Regions from separate parts of the Homo sapiens genome. Here region 1 is linked to region 2. The links come from fine-mapping of genetic effects on gene expression. A gene starts in region 2. The other region holds a variant in brackets. All regions are shown on one strand. Distances are between the middles of the regions. Region 1 holds the start of TRPM1 (transient receptor potential cation channel subfamily M member 1). Region 2 holds the start of TRPM1-AS1 (TRPM1 antisense RNA 1).

What was found. PIP is the estimated chance that this variant, and not a neighbour inherited with it, causes the effect.
Region 1: its variant is the best candidate, but not a certain one, in a credible set for the expression of TRPM1-AS1 in substantia nigra (GTEx, PIP 0.65).

What each region holds. Positions count from the first base shown.
Region 1 is chr15:31,101,632-31,104,131 of GRCh38, forward strand. TRPM1 (transient receptor potential cation channel subfamily M member 1) reads right to left here and starts at 94. Exons shown (of 28, transcript NM_001252024.2): 1 at 26-94. The variant G/T (reference allele first, on the strand shown) is at 1,034.
Region 2 is chr15:31,025,429-31,027,928 of GRCh38, forward strand. TRPM1-AS1 (TRPM1 antisense RNA 1) reads left to right here and starts at 1,444. Exons shown (of 5, transcript XR_932056.2): 1 at 1,444-1,683. It overlaps TRPM1 (transient receptor potential cation channel subfamily M member 1), which reads right to left. Exons shown (of 28, transcript NM_001252024.2): 26 at 1,487-1,689; 27 at 711-843. RefSeq lists an enhancer at 453-1,652.

The DNA of each region.
Region 1 (2,500 bases), 76 kb after region 2:
TGTGCTTACCCGCATCTGAGCTTACCTGCCACAGCAGTGGAATGGAGAGGGCACAGCTCAGGCTCTTTCAGCCTCCTCCTTGGCCAGGGCAGGGAGCTGGGTGAGGAGGGCCCACCCTTTAAGAGGAGCAGTCCCCATGAGGAGCATGTGAGCACTTGGGCCTGGGCCCTCATGATTGCTGTGAAGCGATGGCCCCATGACCTGACTCCCAGGCCAGAAAAGGAAGCCAGGGCCCCAAGCTTCCAGGCTGTTCTGTGTGGAATCCCACAAAGGCAGCCTTAGGATGTGAGAGAGGTAGGGGAGCTAGAGCTTTTCCTTTGAAGTGGCCCCGCCATGGCCCCCTCCCACCCAGCCGCCCTTCCCTGGCTGGAAATGTCAGCAGGGTTTGCATAATTGAGACAATTGGACATAATGGTTCTTTCAGAATCCCCTCATCAGCTGGGCAGTGTTCGTGCCCCGGGGAGCTGGGAGAAGGCGGCACATGGCACTAATTACTGCTAATCCTTCCTCATCTAAGTTGGGCCTGAGGTCAGGGTGAACCCAGCTGCAAATGCAGTGTGAGCCCCACATGACTCTCAGCCCCTTCTGAGTGCTTCTAATCCCTGCTCTCCCCCCTTCACCAGGAGCTTGCCTGCTTGGCATCCACAGTCACCTGAAAACCACCACGGTGGGAGCTCTGTTGGATTTGCTGTAACAGTATGCGTGGTTATTCCAGCTTTCCATGAGCTTTCTCAGCCCAGGAGGAAAGAAAAAACCCAAACCCTGAACTATCCCTCTCTGCAGAGGGGCTGGGTCTTCCCCAGCATCTGAGGCTCTTGGGCATTGTCCGCCTCCCGCTTCTCACAGAGGAGCAGACAGATTGGACGTAAGGGCAATTAGGGGTGTTCCCATTTTACAGATGAGGACTCTGAGTCATGTGAGAGGGTGGCTTGCCCAGAGAGCAGGTGGGGTGGAGTGGGAGTGCCCAGGTTGTCAAGTTCTGCCCATATGTAGAGTCCTGAAGCTGGAGGCTGGGCTCACTCCCCCACCCAAT[G/T]CCTGGCAGACAGCCTGGGGCTCAGGGAATCTCTGAACTTCTGACGGAAGCACATGTGCCAGGCCATTTTCTGGGTCTGTCTTTGCTTTCATTCGTTTCTCTCAGGGTCTGTCACCGCAGAGTGGGCGTGCAAAGGGTCTGGTGAGTGGCTCCCACGTGCTTTGCTGGAGCGCGCACAGCCCCTGGGCGCACAATGACCGCAGCAGCCTCCCTGGCCTGGCTCCCGAGTCTTCTTTCTTGAACTGGTGTTGGCTCCTGAGGCCTGAGAGAGTCACGGCTTCAGCGGGAACCCTTCCGGGGGCTGAGGGAGGGTGCTACGTGGCCGGAATTCTGAAGGCACAGTCAGGGCAATCCGGGGCATCTGAAATCAGTCTGGGAGCAGTGGGGAAAGACCACATGGGGAAGTGAGCTGATGGCCGGCACTGCCATGGCTGGGAGGTGTGGAGGCTCTGTGGTCAGCACCAATGGCCAGCCCGACCGGCTGCCAGTCAGTGGCTCTCCAGGCAGTGGGCCCTTCACTAGACAAATAAGCTCTTTTTCAGGTTCAGATAAGATGGAAACAATGGGAGCCCCATCCTTCCCCAAGAGAACACCCCTCCTCCCCAGGGTCCATGCAGTGTGGCCTGCAACTGGGAGCTGAGATGTCTCACACAGTGGCCACAGGCCACGCGTGGCTATGGAGTGCTGGAAACAGAGCCAGTCAGAATTGAGATATGCTCCGAATGTAAAATATACACGGGATTGCCAAGACTTGTGATAATAATCGATTGCACATTGAAATATTTAGAACATGTTGGGTTGAATAGAATGTTATTAATTTTTTTCACCTGCTTCTATTTACTTTTCAAAACTGACTACTAGAAAATTTTAAATTGGCCCAGCTCACGCCTGCAATTCCAGCACTTTGGGAGGCTGAGGCAGGTGGATCACCTGAGGTCAGGAGTTCGAGACCAGCCTGGCCAACATGGTGAAACCTCATCTCTACTAAAAATATAAAAAATAACCGGCCATGGTGGTGGGTGCCTGTAATCCCAGCTACTCGGGAGGCTGAGGCAGGAGAATCACTTGAACCCTGGAGGCGGAAGTTGCAGTGAGCTGAGATCACACCACTGCACTCCAGCCTGGGTGACAGAGTGAGACTCTGTATCCAAAAAAAAAAAAAAAGAGAGAAAGAAAGAAAAAGAAAAAAAAAAGAAAATTTAAAATTGCCTCTGCTCTGTGGCTCACAGCTATGGCTCACCTTGTATTTCTGTTGGGCGGTGTTGAGCTGCAGCTGTGGGGAAAAGGGGTTCTCACCAGACTGTCCACTCTCCAGAGGCATCCTCCCCCATGAAGTCACTTGGATGACCTGGTGCATGGACACAGTGTGTGAGGACTGTGGAGAGACGCTGTAAGGTCTGAGAATCATTATGTGTCTGTGGAGCCGTCTGAGGACACAAGAACACCACCGTGAAGGGTGGATACTGA
Region 2 (2,500 bases):
AAATGTCACCATTTCTGTACCTCGCGACCTGACTTCATTTACTCATTCACTGGTTCACACATCCTGCATTCATTCACTCTGCATTTATTAAGCATCACCGCGGAGATTAGGCTGACCTTGCTGGGTACTGCGGATGTGAAGGTGTCTGAAAGACACACCCTGCCCTAGTTTAGCGGATCCCACCCTCATGGGGCCAGACACCTCACCCCCCACCCTGCACCCCACCCCTCCCAGTTCCCACTCTCAGGGGAGCCCCAGGAGGGAGCCTTTTCCTCTGCCCTGTGAGGCTGGGAAAGGTGTTGCCAAGGTGCAGCAAGCAGCTAGGCCGGATGAGGAGGGCAGTCCCCTGGGGAGGACCATGCTCGCAAAGGGAAGTTAGGAACAAGAGCTGGGAGAAGGATGGCTTTCTGTAGCTTCCATTAACCTTGCGGAAACACCCCCACTTTGGGGTAGGGGGTGAAGGTAGTCAACTGTTAGGTTTTCTTTCGGCCCAGGATAAATAAATGTCATTCCCTTCTATATCCAATGCACAGTTATTACCTAGTAACTTTCTCACTATTTCGTGGGAACCACGTTAAAACCTAAAGTTTAAATAAAACAGGAGAACTCGGAGTGCATGTTTAAATGAACTCTGGCATCCCCCATAGAGTGGGGCGCCCGAGTCAGCAAACCCTTGGCTCACGGGCCCGCGGTGGGGACGCTACACGTACCTTTCAGAAGTGACCCGGATGCGCTCGTCGCTGGACGACTGCTGCTCATCCTCCTTCTCCCGGAAGTGCTCCTGCACGCACTGCTCCTCGAACTCATGCAGCCTCTTTAGCTCCTCGTCGCTAAGGAAGAGCTCTGTGTGAAGGGAGAAGTGTCGGCCACGTGAAAAACAAGAAGAATCAGTTTCGTGGCGTCAATGAGAATTTCACAGCCCCACTTTAATTAAGCTCTCTTCTCCGCCACTCCTAAGGCAGTTCGCCACTACTCCAATTGATTTTTATCTAAAAAGGGGTTGTCATACGCCCCAACCCTCTATCAGTTGGAGCCAAACGGCCCGCTTTTAAACATAAAAAACAAAATTACATTTACTGGGAAAGTAAAGCCAAGTAATATTTCCTGGAAAACTTTTTGCACTTATTTTTATGAATAGAGTCAAACGTATAGCATTATTTTCTCATTTTCTTTAGATGCAACAAATTAAGACGTTTTGAAAGGAGCATTGAATTTATATAGAAATTTACAGAGTAGAGTTATTTTAGAGAATTAGCTCAACTTCTGGTCTCTATGAGCTGGCTTTCCTAATATTAATTACTAACAAATTAACGAAACTAGAATAAAATGGGTACAAAATGAGAAGCCTTTTGAAAAGAACAGCAGTTGGACTGAGTGTGGTGCTTTTCACACGAGCAAGTAGTTGAGTGAGATTTCTGTGAGGATGTCCAATTTGAACACTATTTTGAAATCAGCCCAACTTAGAAATGAAGAGCCCTGCACATACTCAATCCACGATCCCGTTCCTCTTGGTCCCCTTCTCTCTTTTTCCTGCAGCGGCCGCTGAGACGCATAATGATGATGTAGATGTGGCTTAAAATGATCATCGGTGGGGGCAGGACTGGCCTGTCATGAAATGTCATAATCAGCTGATATCGCTGGAACTTCCACACCTGGTTGGATATTGATTTTACTTCAAAGAAGGTATTGCTTTAAAAAGAAGACATTTTTACAGTTAGTTATATTACTTTTTATAGTGATTTCCCAGAGCAGTCAAAGTTACTCACATTTAAGTGAAAATACTCAATGAGATGGCCTTTTAGTGCCCTTTAGTACTGATTCCTTGATTATCCAATCTTTTGGTTTATCCATCAATGTGGATTATCTGTGCTTAAGGACATTGTATTCATAAATAGCTAAGTGTAATAAATTGCTATGTACTGCTTTCTTGAAAAACCACACCACAATCTACTCATATACTCAGGAAATTTAATTTCCTATGTGTAGCGGTATAAGCCATTTAACTAAATGCTTTCACATGTTTAAACTTTCAATTCTGTCTAACAAGTAGATGACTACTTTTTTTTCAACTGAATTAATTAGTTATTGAACTTATTTGATTGAAGGTTCGTTATTTTGGACATGGGGTAGGTACAATCTTTGTCTTATTTTAGCTTCCAACAGGAAGCAGTAAGTGCATGATTTCATTGTCTACCAATACTGGGACCTTAGGAAAACCAGTTACCTTCCCTGACCTTAGTTTTCTCATCTCTCAAGCCAGAAGTTTGGACCAGGTTTTCTCCAATGCCCTGTTCAATTCTAAGATTGCATATTTCTGTGAAGGATTTTTCCCTCTATATTTTTCATCTTAGAAGCTAAAATCATTTTTTTCAATATTTATTGAGCATGGTCAACATACTCAACACAACATGCCAAATAGGCAGGTTTTATAAGAAACTCGATTTAACCCTTTAAGCCATTTTTTTCTTAGGCCATTTTATCTTGTATTCTATAAATGATC